Regions from separate parts of the Homo sapiens genome. Here region 2 is linked to region 1. Evidence: fine-mapped expression QTL. A gene starts in region 1. The other region holds a variant in brackets. All regions are shown on one strand. Distances are between the middles of the regions.

Region 1 (5,376 bases):
GGGGATCAGAATGAAGACAGCCTAAATGCAAACACTCACCTTAACAGCTTGGGTGCTGAAATAAACTGCATTGGCAGAGGATCCCCTGCAGAGTTCCTCCAGGTAGATTTTTCAGTCTGACTGAAGGTGCAAGGCCATTGTTGGCTCTCAAGAGTCACTCTGAGGATATGGGCCCTTGTTACCTCTGCCACAGAGTTATTTCTCCCACTCCTCCTTTAAAGTCATTGTCTTTCTGAGCTATTTCAAATTCTTCACAGGTGCTTTACACGCTGCTTCTGTCTTCACTAGCAGTCCTTCCCTTCCTCTCCCCAACCTCAGATCTTACAATAGATGTCACTAAAGCACATCTTGTCCCCAGCCCTCCATACCACTTCATCCTTCCCACCACTATTCCTGACTACTTTCCCACTCATCCAGGCTTGACACCCCTGCACCTTCCCCAGACTATCTTAGATGCCATCACCTTCCCACTATCCTTCCCAGCACTTAAAATCGGGAGTTATTCTTGTGGACTCTCATAGAACTCTGAGCTTATGCCTATTATGCCACTTTCCATAGCATAATATAATTGCTTGTTTACTTCCATGAGCCCTCCCCCTTAAGCTCTGGAGCCCAGCTGGGTCTTCTTCACTCTTTTATTCCCAGCACACAGCACTGTTCTCAGAGCATGGCAGGTGCTTAATGCCTATAGAATAAATGAATGCACAAGCATAGGGTCTAATTCATTATGCTTTTATTGCAAATACAGGTAAATGACAGTTTTGTGTATATATATATTTGTGTATATATAGTTGTATATATGTATACGGCAGTAGACACAAAGGGAGAGCAATCACAGATCAGTGGTTTTGTGTTTGTTTTGTTGTGTGTGTGTCATTGTTATTTAACTCCTGTACCAGACCATTTTACTGATTATTTCAAAGATGTAAATATTATCAATACATTTTACAGAGCTGTCTGAACTTTTATGCTGAAACAAGACCGGGATGGCAAATGAAAAATTCCATTTATAAATATTGGTCATTAACCTAATCCAAGAGTATATTAAAAGGAAGGAAATACTACTAGAATTGGAACACAGACAGCAAGCACAATTTGTACTTCCCACACAAGCCCTACCTGGATTCTAATTTAGAGCCCCAATGCCTATTTTACCAAGGCATCTTTAACTTATGCCACTCAGCTGAAGTGATACATATTCCCTAGACTTCACGTGGGGTCAAGGAAAAACATGATAGTTGCCTCAGATTTGGCTCTGGCCTCCTCATCTTCCACAGCCTCCCTATATTGTTCTGGCCAGTTCTGTGGTCGCTTTCTGTAGAGCCTGGCCATGTACTCCAAGACTTTCATTTTGATGGTTTCATGGTGAGCTCGAGGACCCCATAGAAGCTCATATTCAACTGGATTAGAGTAGGACAGTGGCCTGCATTCCAGATAGCGCTGTCTCATAAGCTTACGGGTGATGGAATGCTTTCTCCCTACATCCACACTAAATCTTCGAAGCAAGTTCCAGACATTGGCCTCTTTGACACGGTTGCCCATCAGGAAGATCAAACCTAGGATTGGCATTACATATTCTTGAGTGGGTCTCCCCAGGCTCTCTAGCATCACTTGCTCTTCCTCTGATTCTGGTTGCTGGACAAGGAGGTAGATGTGCTCACTGGTATCAACCTCAATCAGAGACAACCCATAGAACATATCAAGAATTAGAGTAGCTCTATTGAGGATATTTGGGAACACATCCTCAAATTCTTTGCCAGTGTGAGCCAATAGCTCATCCTGATGTATAGGCAGCATCTCCTCAGTGACACTAATAGCCAACTGGACCAAATCATTTGCCTTATCATTCATAGTGTCCTCCGACCAGAACTCTAAGCCAGCAGTCAGGCTTCTTTCTTTGGTTTTGTCACCTTCCAGGGCCTTATTATATTCTTCTGGCCAGCTCCAGGGTTCTTCATCATGGGCATCTGACACAAACTTCAGGGCTTCCATCTTTGTGATTTCCCTGTGGGCTCTAGAGCCCCACAAGAACTCAAACTCAAGGGGATTAGTGCCATACACCGGCCAGTACTCCAAGAATCGCATGCACACAAAGTCAGTAGTGAGGAGGTTCCTTGTGTTCCCAAAGAGGTTGTTGATCCTCTGAGGCTTATCCCACATATCAACTTTTAGCAGCAAGTCCCAAATGGAGGCCTCTCTTGCTCGGTTCCCATTCAAGAGGATGTGGCCTAGGACTAGGGCCAGGAGACTTGCTTTTGGCATGTCCAGGGACTCCGCTATCCTATCGGTGATCTGGAAACCCCGTTTGCTGACTAAATTGTAGGTGTCAGCCTGAGGATCAATAACTCTCAGGTTCAACCCAAAGACCTGGTCCAGGTGAGCTGAGGCTCGTCTGAGGATCTCAGGGAACTGATCTGAGTACTCTCTGAGAAACTCCAGCATCTCGGACTGCTGGATAGACCCCTCCGTCTGGCTTTTCATTCTCATGAAATTCACCAAAGCAATCGACCTGTCTTCTAGAGGGTCATGGACCCTGAGCGCCCCCAAACGTCTGGACTGCTCGTCGATCAGGACCTCCAGGTCATTCGGGTCCTGAACGGCCTGGGAAGTGTTGACACACTGAGAGTTGATTGGCGCCTGAGGGCACTGGGGGGCATCAACGACTAGCATGGAGGTGGGGGACCCGGAGGCGTTAGTAGCTTGTATTTCACCTCTGCCGTCGCCGTAATCTGCAGTGATCTCTGCGCTACAGTGGCGTGCATTCTGGCTTACCAGAGACATGGTTCCAGGAGACAGGAGCGGGAACGGTGAGATCAGCGATCAGTCGGAGAGAGGACCGCAGCAGTGTTGGTGCCTCGGCACAAAGCTGAAGCCCGAGACCCTGGAGCTGGAAGGATCAAAAGTGAAATCTGGTGTGAAGAGCGATCTTTCTACACAAGTGCTGGCCAGCAACGACTGCAAGCCTCAGAGCGTTATTTTGCCGCAGCCTACGCAGGCGCAGTCAGTCTTTGCATTGTGGTGGCCACGCCCCACTCCTCGTCTTCCATGCTTTGTCTCTCATTCCTGCCCCCTCACCTCTGAAGGGCAGGCTAGGCTGGTTGAAGTGGTTGCTGCTGAATTCGAACTTGTTAGAGAAGAGAATTCGAGAAATGGAGTAACAGATATAGCAAAAGGGTCAAGGGATGAGGAGCCGTTCAGTGATGCTCCCTCCACTTGAAGTTTTTCTGTGGGGCTTAAAGCACCATGCTATCAGGCGGTAGAGGATTCAGAGAGGAGGAGGAGGAGCAGAAGGTGGAGGAAGGGAGGAGGAGGAGGAGGGCGCTAACGATTAGAATTATTTCACAGACTCGTTAAAGCTTCCATTCACTCAACAGATATTTACTGACCACATGCCACATGCCAGGCACAGTGCTGTACATCAGAATACAAACATAGTGATTTTTCCCTTTTTGTGTGGAGCTTACATTCTGGGGTATGTTCAAACAATGGTAATAATAATGAGAGATAACACTTATGGAGCACTGACTATGTGCAGGCACTCTTTCTGGTGCTTTCATTTTCCTCATACTTATTCATATAATGCTAGCTCTTAGATAGCTACTCTTAATGATCCTCATTTTACAGATGAGGAAACTGGGTCATGGAGGTAAATGTACCTGTCCAAAGTCAAGCAGCAATAAATGAAAGAGACCACTCAGGTCTGTCAGTCTCAAGCATATTACTTTCTCTCACACCATCTGATCTTTAACCTTATTTATTAAACATGACTCATAAAATAGATGAAAATAGGTGCTCTGATGGAGGGTGAATTAACATGTGATACAAACACAGAGGTAAGTATTGAATTACAGCTTAGTCTGGGGTATGTTAAATTGCGGGCAGTTTCCAATAAAGCCTCAAGAAGGAGTTGAGCTCTAAGTGATGAATAAATGGGAAGGGTTTATAGTAGTATTCTAACCTGAAGTAACAGCAACAGGAAAGGCCTAGAGGAGTGTAGGTACAAGTTTGTGTAACAGCCACTCACCACGGTGACTAGAGCCAGAGTGCACTAGAATGGGTGGTAGATGAGGATGAAGGTTGCTAGACAGTAAGGATTGGATTTTCTGTTCTTCACTTAGTATGTCAAAGCTTGTTGTGGCCCCACAGGGCAGGAATGGCAGCGTCAGAATAGAAGCTATTTATTCAGAGGGTTTATGTATGTGTATGCGTGCCAGCACACGTGTGTTTGGGGAGGCATAATCCAAACACTTTTGCCAGGAAGAGGTGAGTCAGCTGCTTTATTTTCTGAGAGCTCTACTAAAATAGTTGGGCTAAAACATAGGTGTAATCCTAGACTTCAATCATCAAGTTGAAGACTATGATGGTTGCATTTTTCAGTGCGGCATTGGAAAGGGAAAAGATTTATATAGGGTTGCCATCTGCAGTTACAATTGAAATTCTTCCTTAAATTCTTGATGGTAATGAATACTGTTACATTCCACAGAACATTACATTCAGTAATCTTATGCCCTGGAATTCCTTCAGAGGCTACTGTCTTCACATGTGGGGGTTACTCACCTCTGAAATTGTCTACATCCCAGGTGCTTTCTTCAGTACTGAAGTAGGTAACTCAGGGCCACGAATTTAGTCAAACTAGGCTAAAGAGATCAATGTTTACACAAATGAATGTGCATGTTCTAGACGGTAGAAATGTGTGGTTTGTATGCTGATCCTTTTTTCGGGGAGAGTGTTGTAGAAACCAGCACTGTCTTCCAAGCTGCTACAAAGGTATGATTAAGGCCAGACCTGATGGGGCCCTTCACCCTGGTCTTTAACCTTCCCCAGAAGGGCTCCTGTTCCTTGTCTTAGATAGGTGCTTCCCAGGGGGCAAATTGAGATAAGATCTTTAAGCTCTCTAGTTATAAACAAAAACAAACAATTTGGTACATTTTCCCCCTGAAATTCAGCTCACAGTTTGTCGCGAGTTGAACCTCCTACTACTCCCTCCATCTAATAAAGAAAAGCAACATTGAATGGCAGCATCTTATCTCTGAAATGACATCCTGATCCCATTCCACAGCATTGAAACCCTTAACAAGTTGGTCGCTACTTGGCTCTCTATCTTCATCTTTATTCCCCAGTACATCCTTCCATGATATCTTCTTCCTGGCCATATTGAGCTACACTTCTTGTCTCAGCTATTTCTATTCTACAAGTTTCTAAAAAGTTCTAGTTATTGTTAAATGAATAACAAAAAGCTGTCTCTGTGACTGTGACATATGGCATGTTTTCCGCTCTTTAAGTATAATGTAAAAAAGATGAGATCATGCTCTCCATTCTGAACTTTTTTTGATGCTTCCTGACCTCCTTTTTATACATTTCCAGAACAATTTTAAT
Region 2 (5,376 bases), 610 kb before region 1:
CTTGGCATAGTGGACATGGATGAGGGGGCAGCTTGTTTCTCATTGGACAATCTTTTTTAAAGTGTCCTAGTAAACCACACTGATAACAAGCCCTACCAGGTGGTTGGCCTGCTCCATTTTCTGACCTCTCTCAACCGTTTGTCTGAGGGCCATGACTAAGGCTGCGGCCTTTCTCTGATCTCGCTTTTCCTTTTGGGCCTGTTCTTCTTGGTCCCTATTATAGAACACTGAGTTTGCCACGTTTAATAATGCCTCTAGATTTTGTTCAGGGCCCAGGGCTTGCTTTTGGAGCTTTCTCCTGATATCTGCGGCTGATTGGGTGATAAACTTATCTTTTAGAATCAATTGACCCTCGAGTGATTCGGGTGATAGGGGAGTATATTTTCTTAAGGCCTCTCGTAGCCGCTCGAGGAAGGCAGAAGGATTTTATTCCTTTCCCTGGGTTATGGTGGATATCATTGAATAATTTATGGGCTTTTTCCTAATTCTCCTTAGTCCTTCTAGAACACAGGTCAACAGATGTTTACAACTCCAGTCCCCATGATCTGAGTAAAGGTCCTAGTGGGGGTCCATACTGGGGATTGCTTGCTGACCAGTAGGGAATTTGTCCCTTTCTTCAGCTGTCATTCTATCATTTACTTGACTGAGATACCAGGTATCTCCAAACTCTCGGGCTGCAGCTAAAGCCGCATTCTTTTAATTAAAGGCCAGGGTTTGATCTAACAGTAGCATGACGTCTCTCCAAGTGAGGTCAAAGGTTTGCCCTAGACCCTGTAGGACATCTATGTACCTATCAGGATCATCTGAAAACTTCCCCAGGTCTGCCTTGATCTACTTTAAATCAGAGAGGGAGAAGGGGACATGTACCTGGGTTGGGCCAAATTCCCCTCCCCCTACAGCTTGAAGGGGACATAACCGATAGCCTGGGGTTTTTTGTGGACCTTTGGAGATTTCTTTGCTTATTTCCTTTTGGGCAGGGGAGATTAGAGGAGGAGTATCATCAACAGGAAGGGGAGCTATAAGGAGGCTAGGATATGGGGGTAAGCTGAGGGGTCCTCCTGTGGGATGTAAATTGCAAGCTTTGCATAGTCGTGTATTCTCCCTCAGTGAAAAGAAAGCTTGGACATAAGGTATTTCACTCCATTTGCCTTCCCTCCTACAGAAAAGATCAAACTGCAGGATAGTATTGAAATTTGTACTTCTCTCAGGTGGCCATTTTTCCCCATCAGAAAGAGAATATTGGTGCCAAGCCGTAGTGCAGAAAAAAGTGAGCCACCTCTTTTTCAGGGTTTGTGGGTCAAATTGGTCCTAATGGCTTAGGATGCATTTCAAGGGTGAGCCTGTTGATGCCTGAGTGTTTCCCATCTGAAAGACAAAACCGCCCATGGTTTTGGTTTATTTTGTTTCTCTCCCTGCCCAAGAACCTGCAATGGTCCCTGGACCCTGCTGATCAGAATAGTTGCGCTCACCGACACAGCAGCAGAAACAACCCCTGCCCAAGAACCCGCAATGGTCCCTGGACCCTGCTGATCGGAATAGTTGCGCTCACTGACGCAGCAGCAGAAACAACCCCTGCCCAAGAACCCGCAATGGTCCCTGGACCCTGCTGATCGGAATAGTTGCACTTACCGACGCAGCAGCAGAAACGCTAGTTTTCCTCCCAGACCACATGGAGGACCGAGGAAGGTCGGATTTAGTGGTCCTTACCGACGCATTCTTGAAAACCTGCACCCTTGCCTGTCCTCCTAGACCACAAGGAGGACCGACCGAGAAAAATCGGATTTAGTGGCCCTTACCGACGCATTCTCAAAAACCTGTTAGAGTCCTAAGCATTCTCCTGTTAGTATTGGGACTTTACCCCTGTCCTATAAAGATGTTATGCCCTAAAAATGAAGTGGAGGGCCATACCCTGAGGGAGGGAAAGGATCTCTAGGGCTGGAGGAGTGACACCTTTTGTCCTCACTTATATAAATAGGAAGGATACAATTTCTGAGGCTCCCCATATCCTAGCTGCAGGAATAGCTTTTGTTAGGCCTGTTAGTCTGAGGAGGGATCCTAAAATTCCAGGTAGTCCCCACTACAACGGGGCTTTGGGCAAAAATTATGTCTTTCCGATTGGTGAGCCCAGGTGCCTAAAGAAGGTAACAGAGTCCTGGAGTTTATACTAGAAGTCATTCTTATAGGAGAAACTAGAAAAGCACTAGAGACAGGTAGCAATTTTTAGAGGTGGGTCTAACCTCAGAGAAGAGAGGTGAGAGGAAGTTTCTCTGGCAGGCATTAGGACCCAGAGGGCAAAGGTCAGGATAGATAGGATAGATGGGCGAGTCTCGCTTGGGCGACATGCTTGTGAGAGTTCCACTCATGGCCGCAGGGTCAACCAACATGTTGTCGGGACCCCGGAGCTGCATGGCTTTCCTCTCTGTTGACCCTCGGCTCAGCCCAGAAGTACAGGAAAAGCGGAAGCTGGTTCTAGGCAAACCAACGGTCCCAACTCCGAAGAGTCGGGGGTTGTTAGCCCTTTCCCAGAAAGCCTGACACCCGTGTCTTTAGTCCGGCGGCTGCGCTAGTCGCTTTTAACTGGCCGACAGGTGCCCAGTTTTTAGCCCCCGAATTCTAAGGAAAGATAGGACAGAATAGCAAGTGAAAGGGGTC[C/T]GATGGTACTCACTGCTTGGCGATAGGCGAAAGTCTCACCGCTCAGCGATAGGCGATGGTCTCACCGCTTGGCAATTGTCTCACCGCTTGGCGATAGGCGAAAGTCCCTTCGTGGTCACCAAAATGTGTCCGGAATTGGTGGGTTCTTGGTCTCACTGACTTCAAGAATGAAGCCGCGGACCCTCACGGTGAGTGTTACAGCTCTTAAGATGGTGAGTCTGGAGTCTGTCCTTTTTGATGTTCAGATGTGTTCGGAGTTTCTTCTTTCTGGTGGGTTCGTGGTCTCACTGGCTCAGGAGTGAAGCTGCAGACCTTCATGGTGAGTGTTACAGCTCTTAAGGCAGCGCATTTGGAGTTGTTTGTTCCTCCCGGTGGGCTCGTGGTCTCTCTGGGCTCAGGAGTGAAGCTGCAGATCTTTGCGGTGAGTGTTACAGCTCATAAAAGCAGCGTGGACCTAAAGAGTGAGCAGTAGCAAGATTTATTGTAAAGAGTGAAAGAACAAAGCTTCCACAGTGTGGAAGGGGACCTGAGTGGGTTGCCACTGCTGGCTAGCGCAGCCTGCTTTTATTCTCTTATCTGGCCTCACCTACATCCTGCTGATTGGTAGAGCCAAGTGGCCTGTTTTGACAGGGCGCTGATTGGTGCGTTTACAATCCCTGAGCTAGATAAAAAGGTTCTCCACATCCTTTTCAGATTAGTTAGATACAGAGTTTCGACACACAGGTTCTCTAAGGCCCTACTAGAGCAGCTAGACACCAGAGTGTCGATTGGTGCATTCATAAACCTTGAGCTAAACACAGGGTGCTGATTGGTGTGTTTACAAACCTTGAGCTAGACATAAAGGTTTTCCAAGGCCCCACCAGAGCAGCTAGACACAGAGTGTCGATTGGTGCACTCACAAACCTTGAGCTAAACACAGGGTGCTGATTGGTGTATTTACAATCCCTGAGCTGTACATAAAGACTCTCCACATCCTTACCAGAGCAGCTAGATACAGAGTGTCAATTGGTGCACTCACAAACCTTGAGCTAGACACAGGGTGCTGATTGGTGTGTTTACAATCCTTGAGCTAGATATAAAGACTCTCCACGTCCCCACCAGACTCAGGAGCCTAGCTGGCTTCACCTAGTGGATCCTACACCAGGGCTGCAGGAGCTGCCTGCCAGTCTCGCGCCATGCGCTCGCACTCCTCAGCCCTTCCTTGGGTGGTCGATGGGACTGGGTGCCATGGAGCAGGGGGTGGTGCTCGTCGGGGAGGCTCGGGCCGCACAGGAGCCCATGGAGTGGGTGGGAGGCTTAGGCATGGCAGACTGCAGGTCCTGAGCCCTGCCCCACGGGAAGGCAGCTAAGGCTCGGTGAGAAATTGAGCGCAGCGCTGGTGGGCTGGCACTGCTGGGGGACCCAGTACACCTTCTGCAGCCACTGGCCCGGGTGCTAAGTCCCTCATTGCCCGGGGCTGGCAGGGCTGGCTGGCTGCTCCGAGCGCGGGGCCCGCCAAGCCCACACCTACCCGGAACTCCAGCTGGCCCGCAAGCGCCGCATGCAGCCCCGGTTCCCGCTCCCGCCTCTCCCTCCACACCTCCCTGCAAGCTGAGGGAGTGGGCTCCAGCCTTGGCCAGCCTAGAAAGGGGCTCCCACAGTGCAGTGGTGGGCTGAAGGGCTCCTCAAATGCCGCCAAACTGGGAGCCCAGGCAGAGGAGGTGCCAAGAGTGAGCAAGGGCTGTGAGGACTGCCAGCACGCTGTCACCTCTCACTTTGTTGCCTCCCCACCTGTTGAATCTGCACACCAGAATCATGCCCTTCCCCGAGTTCTGGCCAGGAGACTTTGCATTCAGTTGGAATTCTTACAAAGTTCAGTTGGAGGTTTCCTTCTCCCTGTGGTCTTTTCCCAGTTCCTCTGTCAGCCCTCCCCAAGAACCTCTGTGAGACAAGTCAGAAATGGCTTCCCTGGGGACCCAGATAGCGCACAGGGCTTTTCCCACTGCTTCTTCTACTACCCCTGTGTTTTGCTCAGCTCTCTAAATTGACTCAGCTCCAGGTAAGCTCAAGTCATTCTCCCATGATCTAGACCTTCAGGTTCCCCAGTGAAGGTGTGTATTTGAGGGTAGACGATCCCTCTTTCCCACTCTCACAGCTTGGGCTCTCACAGTATTTGGGCTTTCTCCCAGATCCTGCAGCAGCGATGTACTTCTTTCAGAGGGTCTGTAGATTCTCTCCGCTTTTCTGACATATTCCTGCAGTATTTCTGGAGCAAAAGTTCATGATATGAGTCTCCACACTCTGCTCTGTCCATGTGAGCTGGAGCTGCAAGCTAGTCCTGCTTCCTGTCTTCCATCTTCCCCCTTTTCTCTGTTTTTTTTTTTTTGTTTTTTTTTTTTTTTTTTTTTTTTTGCTTGTTAATTTGTTTACATTTCTTATAGATTCTGGATATTAGACCTTTGTTGGATGCAGTTTGCAAAATTTTTTTACCATACTATACGTTGTCTGCTTACTCTGTTGATAGTTTCTTTTGGTGTGCAGAAGCTCTTTAGTTTACTTCAATCCCATTTGTCAGTTTTTGCTTTTGTCACAATTGCCTTTGACATCTTCATCATGAAGTCTTTGCCCATGCCTATGTCCTGAATGGTATTGCCTAGATTGTCTTCCAGGGTTTTTATAGTTTTGGGTTTTAAATTTATGTCTTCAATCCATCTTTTTTTGTATATGGTTTAAGAAAGGGGTTCA

Which allele goes with the higher level. Alleles are on the strand shown, and positions count from the first base shown. SD is a standard deviation of normalised expression in the study named.
For the expression in prefrontal cortex of the gene that starts at base 2,984 in region 1, C is the high allele of the variant in region 2 and T is the other (large effect, 1.2 SD a copy in CommonMind).

The links. PIP is the estimated chance that this variant, and not a neighbour inherited with it, causes the effect. A credible set is the group of variants that fine-mapping cannot tell apart.
Region 2: its variant is the best candidate, but not a certain one, in a credible set for the expression of MAGEE2 in prefrontal cortex (CommonMind, PIP 0.55).

The regions. Positions count from the first base shown.
Region 1 is chrX:75,782,271-75,787,646 of GRCh38, forward strand. MAGEE2 (MAGE family member E2) reads right to left here and starts at 2,984. Exons shown (of 1, transcript NM_138703.5): 1 at 717-2,984. The coding sequence starts at 2,781. The coding sequence ends at 1,210. The region is part of intron 3 of LOC107985664 (a long non-coding RNA gene); the gene reads left to right.
Region 2 is chrX:75,175,678-75,181,053 of GRCh38, forward strand. It overlaps a transcript of UPRT not described here. Among named protein-coding and RNA genes, the nearest start is that of ABCB7, 22 kb to the left of the region's middle. The variant C/T (reference allele first, on the strand shown) is at 2,653.